Regions from separate parts of the Homo sapiens genome. Here region 2 is linked to region 1. The links come from fine-mapping of genetic effects on gene expression. Tissue or cell type: thyroid. Region 1 holds a variant in brackets; the other region holds the start of a gene. All regions are shown on one strand. Distances are from middle to middle.

The links. PIP is the estimated chance that this variant, and not a neighbour inherited with it, causes the effect.
Region 2: KHDC1 starts here. The variant in region 1 is fine-mapped to the expression of KHDC1 in thyroid (GTEx, PIP above 0.99).

The regions. Positions count from the first base shown.
Region 1 is chr6:73,318,529-73,326,633 of GRCh38, forward strand. It overlaps the pseudogene SDCBP2P1. Among named protein-coding and RNA genes, the nearest start is that of C6orf147, 12 kb to the left of the region's middle. The variant T/C (reference allele first, on the strand shown) is at 3,350.
Region 2 is chr6:73,258,647-73,266,751 of GRCh38, forward strand. It overlaps KHDC1 (KH domain containing 1), which reads right to left and starts at 4,550. Exons shown (of 4, transcript NM_030568.5): 1 at 4,128-4,550. All of the region lies in intron 2 of LOC122539213 (KHDC1-KHDC1L), which reads right to left. It also overlaps the pseudogene KHDC1-AS1. RefSeq lists a silencer at 4,394-4,663.

The DNA of each region.
Region 1 (8,105 bases):
TGCAGGGAAACTCCTGTGTTTAAAACCATCAGATCTCATGAAACCAATTCACTATCACGAGAACAGCATGGGAAAGACCCCGCCCAAACCATAATTCAATCATCTCCCACTGGGTGCCTCCCACCACACGTAGGAATTATGGGAGCTACAAGATGAGATTTGGGTGGGGACACAGAGCCAAACCATATTAGTATATTTTATAATTGTTCTATTTCATTATTGTTAATCTTTTACTGTGCCTAATTTATAAATGAATCTTACATAGGCTGGGCACAGTGGCTCTTGCCTGTAATCCTAGGACTTTGGGAGGCTGAGGTGGGCAGATTGCCTGAGCTCAGGAGTTCAAGACTAGACTGGGCAACACAGTGAAACACTGTCTCTACTAAAATACAAAAATTGGCCAGGCGTGGTATCACAAGCCTGTAGTCCCAGCTACTCAGGAGGCTGAAGCAGGAGAATTGCTTGAATCTGAGAGGCAGAGGTTGCATTGAGCCGAGATCACACCACTGCACTCCAGCCTGGGTGACAGAGCAAGACTCCATCTCCAAAAAAAAGGAAAGGAGAGGAGAGGAGAGGAAGAAACTTTACCATAGGTATGTATGTATGTTTGTATAGAAAAAACAGTATATATAGAATTGGATACTATCCATGGTTTCAGGCATTTGGGGATATTGGAATGTATCCCTCACAGGTAAGGGGGGAATAATGTACTGCTATACAAAAATACTGCAATTGAATAATTAAGTAAATGGTTGGTGGATGGTGGGAGCCAGGTTTCTCACTGTTGGATTGGGAATTTACAGATAAGCAATGATCTATGATCTATACCACATAGAATGATATATGTGGTCATGGATTAGAGTTGGAGATATCAGTAAGAAATCATTTTTAATTTAATAACACAGTGAAACACTGTCTCTGCTAAAATACAAAAAAATTAGCCAGGTGTGGTGTCACAAGCCTGTAGTCCCAGCTACTCAGGAGGCTGAGGCAGGAGAGTTGCTTGAATCCAGGAGGCAGAGGTTGCACTGAGCCAAGATCACGCCATTGCACTCCAGCCTGGGTGACAGAGTGAGACTCCATCTCAAAAAAAAAAAAAAGAAAAAGAAAAAAAATATTTCTATATACACAGGTTAGTAAACACACGTATATTTCTTTTTTTTCTTTGAGATGGAGTCTCACCCTTGTCACCCAGGCTGGAGTGCAGTGGCACGATCTCAGCTCACTGCAACCTCCGTCTCCCAGGTTCACGCTATTCTCTTGCCTCAGCCTCCCAAGTAGCTGGGATTACAGGCGTCCGCCATCACACCTGGCTAATTTTTGTATTTTTAGTAGAGACAGGGTTTCACAATGTTGGCCACATATATTTCTTTGCTCTGTCAGAGGTGGCCTAAAAGAACCAACACCCTGGTAGCAACAAGCACACCTAATACTCAGATTTTGGTTTCTAATACCATTTTCCATTAAAGGAACTCCTTGGAGAAATGGCTTGAGGACTGGGCAAGAAATATACAAAATAAGCCTGGAGCACATTATAGTACCAGAAAATAAAGTGCTCAAAAAAAAAGTGATGGAGTGGCTGGGTATGGTGGCTCATGCCTGTAATCCCAGCACTTTGGGCAGCCAAGGCGGGTGGGTCACTTGAGGCCAGGAGTTCAAGACCAGCCTGGCCAGCATGATGAAACCCCATCTCTACTAAAAATACAAAAATTAGCCAGGCATGGTGGTCCACACCTGTAACTCTAGCTACTCTGGAGGCCGAGGCAAGAGAATCACTTGGACCCGGAGGCGGAGGCTGCAGTGAGCCAAGATTGTGCCATTGCACTCCAGCCTGGGCAACAGAGCAATACTCTGTCTCAAAAAAACAAAAGAGTGATGGGGGTATGTCAAAGGAACAAAAGAAGCAACGGAAAAAGCTCTCAATAGCCAAAGCTGGAATAAGTTTTTGTTTTGTTTTTTTTTTTGAGACAGAGTCTCATTCTGTCACCCAGGCTGGAGTGCAGTGGTGTGATCTCGGCTCACTGCAACCTCCACCTCCCACGTTCAAGCGATTCTCCTGCCTCAGCCTCCTGAGTAGCTGGGACTACAGGCGCCCACCACCATGCCTGGCTAATTTTTGTATTTTTAGTAGAGACAGGTTTCACCATGTTGGCCAGGCTGGTCTCGAACTCCTGACCTTGGGATCCTCCCGCCTCAGCCTCCCAAAGTGCTGGGATTACAGGCGTGAGCCACCGTGCCCAGCCTGGAATAATTTAAAAAATAAAGTATTGGATTATACCAAAAATGTAAAATGAATATCAACGATCTGAGAATGAAAGTGCATTTTTAAAAAAGAATATCCACGAGTTCATATCAGTATAAATAAATCCACAAATTAATATATGAAGAAAAGATGAATCTCCTGTGCAGAAAAATCTTAAGTAAATAAGTAGATACTTCATCCTAAGAGAGGAAGAGCATAACTCCTCACTCCTTAAGTGTAGGCAGTGCCTGTTGATTTTCTTCAAAAGAATACAGAATGGAGAAGGGGTGGGGAAGAGTAACTTTACAGTGGAGAATCCTGACAAACGCTACCTTAGCCAGGTGATCAATGTGAACAGTCATACAACATGCTGATAGTGTGCACCCTTGATATGATGTGATGAAAATGGTACTTTAGGCCAGGCGCAGTGACTCACGCCTGTAATCTTAGCACTTTGCGAAACTGAGACGGGCAGATTGCTTGAGGCCAGGAGTTTGAGACCATCCTGGCCAACATGGTAAAACCACATCTCTACCAAAAATACAAGAATTAGCCCAGTTGGCCGGGCGCAGTGCCTCACGCCTGTAATCCCAGCCCTTTGGGAGGCCGAGGCGGGCGGATCACGAGGTCAGGAGATCGAGACAATCCTGGCTAACACGATGAAATCCCGTCTCTACTAAAAATACAAAAAAAATTAGACGGGCATGGTTGCTGGCGCCTGTAGTCCCAGCTACTCAGGAGGCTGAGGCAGGAGAATGGCGTGAACCAGGGAGGCGGAGCTTGCAGTGAGCCGAGATCCCGCCACTGCACTCCAGCCTGGGCGACAGAGCGAGACTCCGTCTCAAAAAGAAAAAAAAAATTAGCCCAGCATGGTGGTGCACAACTGTAGTCCCAGCTACTCAGGATGCTAAGGCACAAGAATCGCTTGAACCCAGGAGGTGAAGCTTGCAGTGAGCAAGATCATGCCACTGCACTCCAGCCTGGGTGACACAGCAAGACTCTCAAAAAAAGAAAAACAGTACTTTATCTCTGTGATCTTCCTCTCCAAAAATCTAAAATCTGAGTCTAATCATAAGAAAAAAATCAGGCCGTATGTGGTGGCTCACA[T/C]CTGTAATCCCAGCACTTTGGGAGGCCGAGGCAGGTGGATCACCTGAGGTCGGGAGTTCAAGACCAGCCTGACCAACATGGAGAAACCCCGTCTCTACTAAAAATACAAAAATTAGCCGGGCGTGGTGGCACCTGCCTGTAATCCCAGCTACTCGGGAGGCTGAGGCAGGAGAATCTCTTGAACCCAGAAGCCAGAGGTTGCAGTGAGCCGAGATCGCACCATTGCTCTCCAGCCTGGGCAACAAGAGCAAAACTCCATCTCAAAAAAAAAAAAAAAAAAAAGAAAGAAAGAAAAAAAGAAAATCTGAGTAAGTATGAACTTTATCACTATTGATTCTTAATTGTAAGAAATGTATTTGTTAACTATGTATATGATACACTTAATAATATGGGATGTTATTAGGCCAGGCGTGGTGGCTCCTGCCTGTAATCCCAGCACTTTGGGAGGCCAAGGCGGGCAGATCATGAGGTCAGGAGTTCAAGACCAGCCTGGCCAACATAGTGAAACCCCGTCTCTACTAAAAATACAAAAATTAGCCAGGTGTGGTGGCATGCGCCTGTAGAACCAGCTACTCAGGAGGCTGAGGTGGGAGAATCACTTGAACCCGGGAGACGAAGGTTGTAGTGAGTGGAGATCACACCATTGCACTCCAGCCTGGGTGACAAAAAAAAATAAATAAATAATATGGGATGTCATTAACAGGGGAAACTGGGATTATGTAGTATGGAATGGTACTATCTGCTCAATTTTTTTTTTAATTTAAAACTTTTCAGTGAAGTGTGTGGTCTGAGAATGAAATTGGGCCCAGGAACCGCTCTGTCCTCCTTTCCCCACCCTTACCCCTGCTTCCCAGTAACCTCTGAAGCACTAGGTCCCATAGGCCAGGCTGACCCCCTGCACCCCTGGTGTCTGCAAACTGCTGTCTCAGTTTCCTAGCCAGCCCAGGGGGTGGAGGAACAGCCTGGGCATGTGGTATGAGATCAAGGCCCAGGTACACAACATCCACCTGTGCAAAGACAAACATGGCAAGACTGGGCTGCAGCTGCAGACCACCAACAAGGGGCTCTTTGTGCAGGTGAGGTGGTCCAGGCCAACACCACTGCATCCCTCATGCTGCTGTGCTTTGGGGACCAAATCCTACAGATTGATGGGCATGACTGTGCCAAGTGGAACATGGAAAAAGCCCATCTGGCAGATGTGAGAGGGAATTGGCCAAGAAGATTGTTATGGTCATTCAGGACAGGATAGTCCAGTGGATTGTCACCATGCACAAGGACAGCACAAGCCATGGTGGCTTCATCATCAAGAAGGGAAAGGTCTTCCCTGTGGTCAAAGGGAGCTCTGTGGTCCTCAAGGACTCTTCACCAACCACCATGTGTGCCAGGTTCAAGAACGTTTAACAAGCACTGTGCAGAGTGTCATTGGGCTGAAAGAGATCTCAGAGATTCTGGCCACAGCCAGGAACATTGTCACCCTGATCATCATCCCCACTGTGATCTATGAGCACATAGTCAAAAAGTTTTCCCTGACCCATCGCCACCACATATGGACCACTTCATCCCAGATGCCTGAAGCCACAGGAGGGCAGCTTAGGCCCTCCCACCCTCCTGCAGGAAAGGCCAGCCACTCTTGAATGACAGGTTGCAGCCTGCCTGCTGCCCCAGGACAAGGCTTTGTTGAGGGGATGTATTCCAGATGGGTGGACATCAGATGGTGTGAGTCTGTCATTTGTACACACAGGCCTCCTTAAAGCCTCATACTCCTAGCTGGGCTGAGGCTTGGGCAGGGCCCACAGGCAACCGATCATAGCTCACTGCAGCCTTGCATTTCAGGGCTCAAGCAATCCTCCCACCTCAGCCTCCCGAGTAGCTGGGATTATAGGCGCATGCTATCACACTGTGCTTTTTTTTTTTTTTTTTTTTTTTTTTTTTTTAGTTTATGTAGAAATAGGGTCCCACTAAGTTTCCCAGGCTGGTCTCAAACTCCTGGACTCAAGCAATCCTCCCACCTCAGCCTCCCACAGTGCTGGGATTACAGGCATGAGCCACCATGCTCACACTTGACCTTCTGTGCTGGCTTAACTGCTGGGCATGGAAGCAGGCTGGCTAAACACTTAAACGTGCAATTGAATCCCAAGAAAACAGTTACATATTTTAAAAGAAGGAAACTACATTCTGAGAACTTTTTATTTGCCTTTATTTGCTCTTTGTCCGACTATAATAATTATAACCTTTTACAGTCTTTTGAATAAAGATTTTGTTGTAAACAAACTTAAAAAGAACTTCTAAAACCTAAAATCTATTAATAAAAATTGAATAATTATAAAATACTTACAAATGAAATTATGTGGGCCAGATGCAGTGGCTCATGCCTATAATCCCAGCACTTTGGGTGGCCAAGATAGGAGGATTACTTGAGCCCAGGAGTTTGGGACCAGCCTGGGCAACATAGTGAGACCCTCACCTCTATAAAAACAATAATAATAATAAATTTAATTTTAATTTTTAAAAAATGATGTGATGTCTAGAATTTGCTTCAATCTGGATATGGGAAATATGATAAAAACAAGATTATTGATAACAGGTGAAGCTAGATAATAGGTAAATTAAGTTCATTACACTGGTCCCTCTATCTTTGTCTGAAATATTTTGTTATAGAAAGTAAAAAAAAAATAATTAATTTTTTTTAAAAAAAGAATGAGTTCTGCCGGGCGCGGTGGCTCACTCCTGTAATCCCAGCACTTTGGGAAGCCAAGGCAGGCGGATCATGAGATCAGGAGATCAAGACCATCCTGGCTAACACAGCGAAACCTCATCTCTACTAAAAATACAAAAAAATTAGCTGGGCATGGTGGCGGGCACCTGTAGTCCCAGCTACTTGGGAGGCTGAGGCAGGAGAATGGTGTGAACCCAGGAGGTGGAGCTTGCAGTGAGCCAAGATTGCCACTGCACTCCAGCCTGGGCGACAGAGCAAGACTCCATATCAAAAAAAAAAAAAAAAAAAAAGAATGAGTTCAAATTCTATAGCCAGATACGGAAAGGAAAAAAGCTTGAGAGTAGGTTAAGAAGGGGTATTTTACTTGTCATCTTATATCCTTCTCTACTGTGTGTGTATTAAAAAATACAGCATTAAGCCTGGGCACCGTGGCTCATGCCTATAATCCAAGCATTTTGGGAGGCCAGGGTGGGTGGATTACCTGAGATCAGGAGTTTGAGGCCAGCCTGGCCAACATGATGAAATCCCATCTCTACTAAAAATAAAAAAATTAGCCGGGCATGGTGGTGGGCACCTGTAATCCCACTTACCCAGGAGGTTGAGGCAGGAGAATTGCTTGAACTGGGAGGCAGAGTTTGCAGTAAACTGAGATCGCGCCATTGCACTCCAGCCTGGGTGACAGAGCAAGACTTCGTCTCAAAAAAAAAAAAAAAAATAGAAATCTTGGAATACATTTTAATAACAGAAAAAGCTCAACAGATATGCATTTAACAGAGAATAAAACTGCAAAACTTCCCAGGTTCATAAAGGTGCCAGGTAGGCCAGGCGCAGTGGCTCACGCCTGTAATCCCAGCACTTTGGGAGGCTGAGGCAGGCAGATCCCCTGAGGTCAGGAGTTCGAGACCAGCCTGGCCAACATGACGAAAACCCATCTCTACTAAAAATACAAAAATTAGCCGGGCGTGGTGGTGGGCACCTGTAATCCCAGCTACTCGGGAGGCTGAGGCAAGAGAATCGCTTGAACATGGGAGGCGGAGGTTACAGTGAGCCAAGATAGTGCCATTGCACTCTAGCCTGGACAATGAGAGCGAAACTCCATGAAAAAAAAAGAAGAAAAAAAAGTTCCAGGTAAATTTAGGTTGTTTTTTTTATCATTGCTAGTTGTTGATATTGTTCTCTTCTTGCTTCACCTTTGTCTGCAATTACTCAAACTGCTGTGATAGCTGCTCCTCTTCTACAGAGCTGGAGTTCCGCATGGCTGGGGTTCAGTGTGCCAGGAAGCCCTTGGACCAATCAGACTCAGCAAGCTGACTCATGGCTGTTCTTCCTACATATGAGAAAAAATGTGACAATTCTTCCTATATATGAGAATAATAGTTTGATAAATGACAACTAGGAGAGCACGGCACTCAAGTATTGAGCCATTCCCTTCCAAAAAAGAACTTCTACAACTTACAATCCACAGGGTAGAGGGTAGGAGAAATGAGGAAATTAAATGTTCTTCAAAATCTTTATCTTCTGGCCAGGTGCAGTGGCTCACGCCTGTAATCCCAGCACTTTGGGAGGCCAAGGCAGGCAAATCATGGGGTCAGGAGTTCAAGACCAGCCTGACCAACATGGTGAAACCCCGTCTCTACTAAAAATACAAAAATTAGCAGGGAATGGTGATGCACACCTGTAATCCCAGCTACTCAGGAGGCTGAGGCAGGAGAATCACTTGAACCCGGGAGGCGGAGGTTGCAGAGAGCCAAGATCATGCCTCTGCACTCCAGCCTGGGTGACAGAGCAAGACTCCATCTCAAAATAAAATAAAATAAAACAAAACAAAATAAAATAAGGATGCAATCAATCAGTTTAGGCCCTGGTAAAGAAAATGAAGTGTTCTTGACTTTGGCTACAAAGTACCTTAAAGGATCTTAGACCAACTGCAGAAGGAGGCTGACTGTACCCAGACTCCCACAGTTAATGAAGTTTGTCCTTATGTAAATGATGGTTATTATGCTGAAAGATGATTGGTAAATGAACTTGGAAGTTCTTCCC
Region 2 (8,105 bases), 60 kb before region 1:
CAAGGGCCAAAGGCGGAAGGTGGAGGGAGTGATCAACTCTGAAACCTAGATTCAAAAAGCACTTCTGTGTGACCTCAGAAAAGGTATCTATCTCTCAGCATCAGTTTCCCTACCTGTAAAATGGTATTAATCATTCCTAATTCCCAGCAGTTGCTGGATCACATAAGTTAATGTGCCTGAGTGCAAGGCTGTGAGCCTTCTGCCTTTCCCTAAGACACAGGTGAGCTGCTCATCCAGCAGATGGAGACTGTCTGGAAGGGCCTATTGGGCTGCCTACTATGGTCTCAAGCTTTGAGTGGCTAGGGCTAGAGGCCTGACCCAACGGGAGCCCACTGGTGAGAGGAATGGCAGTAATTGCAAGGGCAGGGCTTGCAGGAAGAATTTTTAATAGAATCTGCTGCTCAGGAGCCTTACACAAATTCCCTGGGGCCTGCTTCTTCCTACTCACCACCAGGGCAATACTGGGACCAACATGCTCTTAAGGGAACCTGGTGGCTTAAGACAGAATATTTTGAGATTCAGATAGTGTTTTACTTTCCCGTGTGGCTATGAAAGTGATTCTAGAGTTGGCACTCAAGTCCAGGTCCCATCTTTCCTCATTTTGGAAGGCTTTCTGCTGACAAATCCAATATGCTTTTTTTTTTTTTTTTTTTTTTTTTGAGACGGAGTCTCGCTCTGTCGCCCAGGCTGGAGTGCAGTGGCTATTCATAGGTGCAGTTATAGTGCACTAGCCTGGAGTTCCTGGGCTCAAGCCATCCTCCTGCCCTAGCTTCCTGAATAACTAGGACTACAGCCATGCACTACCACACCTGGCTAAATCCAATTATTTTAAATTAGCTGGAAGAAGAAAGACATTGGGGTTCTTCTTACTTCTCCTTGAGAGGACCAGATTTGGTCCCCAATTTTTAGAACAAAAATATTCACATTGAGAAAGCCAAGGATAGATCGAAGGGAATGCAGAAGCAGTCACATACTAGTTACATGCAGCAAGAAAGTCATCCTTTAGATTTATAAACTCCTTGTCATGTTGTTTCCTCTCCTGGCCCCTTCTCCACACTTTTAAACAAGCATGTTGTGGTCTCAGTTGAGAGCTTGACAAGGTTTTTGCTATGGTTGAGACATCAATCTCTTTTGTAATTGAATCTATTCACCAGGGAGAGTGTGAGCAAACCATGTTCAAGCTCTTTGTCTTTGTCCTAACTAGGCATTTACCATATAAACATAATAAGAAACAAGCCCCTGCAAGTCTTTCTTTTTAACCAATTATCTGGCTGTTTCTCTTGCTGTAGTCCTGCCTTCATTAAAAGCTGTCCAGGGGGTAGGGCACAATCTTTGGAAGCATATCTAAGATGCCAATTTCTTTGCATTTCAGTGAAAAGTAAGTCATCAGGGTATTTGGGACATCTCTTCAAGCTTTTCTTGATGGTCTATATCAGCATAGCCCCCTCCTTTCCAGCTTTCCTCATTCCTACTTTAGAGTCCGCTATTGTGCCTTTATGCCTTCAAATTGGGGTATACCCATATATCCATATAAAAAACATTTTTCTTTCTGTAATCATTACAGGGGAGTCCAGTGTGATTTACAGAACAAATTGAAATCATTCTATCAAGATGTAAAAAAAATTAAGGGGAAGGCTCTGGGCTGGGGAATGTTAATTAGCCCCTAACCCACCCTATCATCTTTCTCTAGTTCACAAAGATAACTGTCAATTTATCCTCAATGTCCAGAATAATGCCTTATACCTAGTAAGCAATCAACAAATATTTGTTTAGAGAATGAGTAAACTATTACCATAGTTTATTTACCTGCTGAAATTATATTTTTCTAATTTTAAACTATTATGCAAAAAAAGTTTCCAGTTAAATATTTTGCATACCTCTTTTTGAACACCTGTTTATCTGTAGAATAAAAAAGTTAAATTAGAATGTCTGAAGCAATGTTCTTCAGTATAATCAATATTACTTCAAAGATTAATTTTAATATTTTAACTTCAATTAATACTGCCAAATCTACCCCCACCCCTAGCAGTGGCTATCCTGATTTATACTTCTACTAAGAATATTCACTTTTCCACAAAATTGATATTTTCAAATTTCAGTTTTAGCCAGTGTGGGAGAAAATGGATCTCTCTATTTTTTTGCTTTGCATGCCAGCATCACTAGTGCAGTTAAGCATCTTTTTTATGTGGTCAGTTTTATTTCATTCTTACTTCTTCATCTATTGTCTATTTATACATTTGCCCATTTCTCTGTAGGGTTGTCTTTTTCTTATATATATTTGTTTTCACTATCTATTCCAGATGTTAATTCTTTGTGCACTGTATGTTTCCTCTTTTTAAACTTTATTCATGGCATTTTTGTTCTATGAAACATTTTAGCCCATAATCTCACATCATGGAAGAGTAATTACCTTGCAAACCTCTCTTGTCTACTCCTACTCAGTAGCATCAAATCCAGTTGATTCAAGTCTTGCCCTCTCTTTAGAGGAAATATAGTGTGGTGATTAGAAGCATAGGCCAGGCATGGTGGCTCACACCTGTAATCCCAGCATTTTGGGAGGCCAAGGTGAGCAGATTACCTGAGGTCAGGAGTTTGAGACCAGCCTGGCCAACATGGTGAAACCCCGTCTTTACTAAAAATACAAAAATTAGCTGGGCATGGTGGCGCATGCCTGTAATCCCAGCTACTTGAGAGGCTGAGGCACGAGAATGGCTTGAACCCAGAAGGCGGGGATTGCAGTGAGCTAAGATCACGCCACTGCCTGGTGACAGAGCTAGACTCTGTCTCAAAAAATAAATAAATAAATAAAATTTTTTTTAAAAAAATAAGCATAGACTCTAGGACCAGGCACAGTGGCTCACACCTGTAATCCCAACACTTTGGGAGGTCGAGGCGGGCGGACCCCTTGAGCCCAGGAATTTGAGACCCGCCTGGGCAATATGGTGAAACCCTGTCACTATAAAAAAAATACCAAAAAAAAAAATAGGCTGGGAGTGGTGGCTCACGCCTGTAATCCCAGCACTTTGGGAGGCCAAGGCGGGTGGATCATGAGGTCAGGAGTTTGAAACCAGCCTGGCCAAGGTGGTGAAACCCCGTCTCTGCTAAAAATACAAAAATTAGCTGGGCATGGTGGCAGGCACCTGTAATCCCAGCTACTCGGGAGGCTGAGGCAGGAGAATCACTTGAACCCGGGAGATAGAGGTTGCAGTGAGCCAAGATCGCACCACTGCACTCCAGCCTGGGTGACAGAGCAAGACTCCATCTCAAAAAAAAAAAAAAAAGCCTAGCTGGGCAAGGTGGTATGTGCCTGCGGTCTCAGCTACTCAGGAGGCTGAGGTGAGAGAATTCATTGAGCCCGGCAGGTTGGAGCTGCAGTGAGCCATGATGGTGCCACAGCCCTCCAGCCTAGGCAGCAGGAAAGAGGCCCTTCTCAAAAAAAAAAAAGCATAGACTCTAGGGCCAAATTGATGTGCTCAAGCAAAGGTTTTGCCACTTACGGTGTAACCTTGGGCCAGTTGCTTAACCTCTCTTGACCTCACTTGCCTTCTTTGTAAACCAGAGGTGATAATAGTATACCCATTTCATAGGGCTGTGGTGAGAACTAGAGGAGTTAATACATTTAAAGAGCTTAAAAGTGTCTGGTGCATAGCAAGTGCTACGTAAATGTTAAACCTTTCCTGCCCTTTTCCTCTGCTCCTCCTTTCCCTTGTTTCCTGTTACAGCATTCCTTCTTTTTTTCTTACTATTTCCTCACTATGCCTTTGCTTGAATACTAAAAAGAAACTACTGGTCCAACAGCAGGCAACACCTCATGCGATTACTTTAAATGACTTCAAAATAATACAAACATATCCAGCACAATAGTTTACATTTTAAAGGTGTTACACCCATTTTGTTTTGAGATGTGTCAACAAAACCCGTGTTTCTTTTCTTTCTATAAGTTTAAAATGTCCCCAAATCAATTAACAATAGAGGAAAGTCACACGATCTGTTTTAATTTTTCTCTTTATACTGCTATCTCCTGTTTCCCCTGTTTTTACACTTCTTTGCAGCTCACTTTCCTTATCTGTAAGATATTCTTAGGATGAACTTAGTAAGAAATGTGCAAGATCTAGATGAAGACCCACCAGATAGGATGCTCTCTTGCAGACACGCAACTCACTGACTCAACCAATGAGGAAATTATCCCACAAAGCAGATAATCCTAATGGAGGGCAGAATTCAGGACTGAGCATCTCAGTGATGCCGCCGGGAACCCAGGCTTCTCTGTCCCTTCACCGGACTAACCGAGTTCGAGACCACAGGGGGGTCAGGTAGCCAAGGCTGGGCTTTGACGGTAGGAATGAAGGAGGTGAGGGTGGCGCGCCGCAGGCCTGGGCCACTCCCTGAGTAGGGCGGCGGCGGCGGCGGCGGCGGCGGCGGCAGCGGCGGCAGCGGCTGCAGGCCTGGCCGATTGTGAGGAGACAGCGGTACCTCCTGGGCCGCGCACCCGACCCTTCCAGGGGTCCCGGCTCGCGCCGCGGCCGCGCGAGGCGCGCTCGAGCGGAAGTGGCGGCGACCCCGCCGGAAGCGCGCGGCTGCGGCGCGGGAAGCAACCCAGAGCCCTCCTCCCGCCTGCTCTGTGTAGGAGACAGCCTGCGGAGCCCACTGCCGGCGCGCAGAGAGCCCAGCAGCTCTTGAGTCCAGGAAGCAAGGGTGGGAGGAGGGACGAGCCAGTGGCAATGACCCAGACCCGGACGACCCCCATTGCTGAGCCAGCGGAGCTGCTTGGTGAGTGGCCTCCAGGCGGCATCTCTTGCTCTCAGCCCGGAGGGGGTTTTGGGGACCCAGGCTGTGGGGCTGCCTCTTCCCATGCCTTCAGTTCACCCCGATATGGGGTGAAAAACCCTAGAGACCCTCGGGTGTCGGTCCACCAAGGGAGGTCCAGACTCCCCAGGAATGTTGCCTGGGGAGGGGTGTCGCGGTGGGGGGGGGGGTGACCCAGGCCCACCCTCTGCAGGGCACTTAAAATGCTCCACATCCCCAGTGGATGCCTCCTGTCACGCATCACACCGTGGTGTATTTGAGATCCCATCTGCCACTTGGGCTGGAGGGAAATGAATGTTTTTGGGTTTCTTGTCATTGCTTCCTGCGGATTCCATTTTACTCCTGTTCGTTTATGGCCTCAAACATGAATTTGAAGAATTTTGCCCTCCCTGGCAGTATTGGGAAGAAGATTCTTTTGTTCAAGTCCGTTTGGACAATTAGATGGGAGTATTAACAAAAGGTCGGGCTGGGCACAGTGGCTCACACCTGTAATCCCAACACTTTGGGAGGCCAAAGAGCAAGGATCGCTTGAGCCCAGGAGTTCGAAACCAGCTGGGGCAACAGAGGGAGAACTTGTCTCTACAAAAAATTTAAAAATCAGCTGGGCATGGTGGTGCACGCCTGTAGCCCAAGCTATATGGGAAGCTGAGGTGGGAGGATTGCTTGAGCCCGAGAGTTTGAGGCTGCTGTGAGCTGAGATCACGCCACTGCATTCCAGCCTGGGCAACAAAGCAAGACCCTGTCTGAGGTCAACTCTGCCCCCAGGAAGGTATGGGACCTTGCAATCTTATCTAGGTTGCGTCTTTTTCATTGAAATCACGAAATCATTAAGGTAAGTAGGGAAGGGTCAAGATAGCTAAGATGAGTGAGGGGACACAGACACCAATAAAAGTTCTAACTTTGAGGACTCCTCCAGTATTCTTTTCATCCTAAAGCTTCTGGCCTATCAGCTAGTTCAGACACAGCCTAGGAGTCTCAAGCCAGTACAGGAACAAGGAGGCAGGTTGCCCTCTTGGGGCAAAGCTGTGGCCCCACCCTTGATGAAGAACGCCTGTAGGAACCCAGGACCTGTGAGCAGGTAGAGTCCTGAAGGTTTAAGATTCTGTGGAGCAGGTATGTGCAGTGCCAGTGCGCAACCAGCAACTGATGGACAGGAATAGGTAGAGCTGCTCTGAGTGCATTCCTTTGGCAAGCCTGGGCCAGAGGCACACAGGAAGGAATTAGTCATGTGGTATCATAGGCCAGGTGTGGAAGCAAATGAGCCAGAGTGGAACCAGGACCAGCCAGGGCCAAGGCAGGGAGAAGAGTTCCTCTAGCTGACATTGACAGGAAAGCAGAGTCAAAAACCTGGAATGGTTTGCTTCAAAGACTGGATGCTGCCTAATGACCTCGAAGGCCAGTGATACCTGGACTCTTGAGTGAGCAAGGCAGATTTTGGAATGAGCACACAACTTCAAGTAAGCCCGGAGATGATTACCTGTAGTTTCTGCTGCTCTTAGAGGCAGAATCATCTGAGAACTGATTGAGGAGTGCATGTATACCCCAGAGACTAGTGCACTCTAGGATAAAAGGAGTCATTCAGCCCTTACTTTTGGTTGGATGCAGGGTGTAGTTTCAATAAAATGTCACAGAACAAATTTCTAAGACCTTTAGGTTGAGTGAGTGTTAGAGTTTGTCTAGTAGTATATTTCTCATCAGTTACCTATTTAGCTGTTCTGCATAGGCCTTTGAGATAAGGAAATAAGTAAGATAAATTCTCCCCAGAAACCGCAAAACAATTATAATGTTGAGAGAAGAATGAAGTAGTAACTCTGTCTGTACTGAAGAAGGAATTCGGTGTACAGAAAAGAGGTCACTGCCTGAGGTCGGGAGTTTAAGATCAGCCTGGCCAACATGGTGAAACCCCATCTCTACAAAAATACAGAAATTAGTCGGGCATGATGGTGGGTGCCTGTAATCCCAGCTACTCGGGAGGCTGAGGCAGGAGAATTGCTAGAACCTGGGAGGTGGAAGTTGCAGTGAGCCAAGACTGTGCCATTGCACTCTGGCCTGGGCAACTGAGCGAGACTCCGTCTCAAAAAAAAAAAAAAAAAAAAAAAAGTAACGTGACTGGTCACTGTGAGCTGGATTGGAGGAAGGTGGGAATGGAGACTAAGGGCTCTTGCTGAGAGGAGTTTGAGTAAGCCTTTTTCAGGTTCTCTTGTCTTTAGCATTTAAATCCTGGACTTTATAAGTAGACTGACAGTTGTGGCATCAACACAACTAAAAGGCAGGGTTACCCTCTTAGAGTACACTTGGAAAATCAGTCTGAAATGAAAGAAACTTTCTTGGTGAAGTGGAAGTGGAAGTTTTGGTTGGGTGCAGTGGCTCATACCTGTAATCCTAACATTTTGGGAGGCAAAGGTGGGAGGATTGCTTGAGACCAGGAGTTTGAGACCAGCCTGGGCAACATGGCGAGATCCCTTTTCTTTTTCTTTTTTTTGGGGGGAGACGAGGTCTGGCTTTGTTACCCAGGCTAAAGTGCAGTGCAATGGCATTCTAACACTCACCCAACCTAAGGGTCTTAGTATCCATACAAAAAGCATTGACAAAAAGCATGCCATATGTTAAGATCAAGGTTTATCTTTGGGTGTTGAGTGCAACACTTGTTATAAGAAGCAAAATAAACTTAGAAGCAAAGGAGTGGATGAGGATCTGTCTTGGGGGAAAATCCAAAGATTAGTTGTGATCAGAGTATAGTACCTTTTGGCCTGACTTATATAACAAACTCTGCAATATGTTAAAACCTTTAATGAAAACAAGGGAGATGTTGGACTCTAATGTCACTCTTAATAATGAAATAACCAACATTTGTTGAGCTTTTTACTACATACCACAGGTGTTCTTCTAAGCTTTTTACTTTCATTAGCTCAATAGTCTTTGCCTTATCATATAATAGGCACTACTGCATGGATATATGTTGTCATTTACTGAGGAAGCAGTTATCAAGAGCCCAGACAATAAGCTGAGAAATCTGAGTTGACTTTAAAGTCCTCCTGTGTTTCAACAAGGGTGCCAAGACCATTCGATGGAGGAGGGACAGTCTTTTCAAAAAATGGTACTTGGAAAGCTGGATACCCACATACAAAAGAATGTTGTTGGCCTCCTTACCTTATACCAGATACAGAACTTAAAGTGGATCAAAGACCTAAATGTAAAACTGTTAGAAGAAAACACAGGGCAAAAGCTTCATGATGTTAGATTTGGCAATGATTTCTCAGATATGACTCCAAAAGCATATGCAACAACAACAAAAAAGA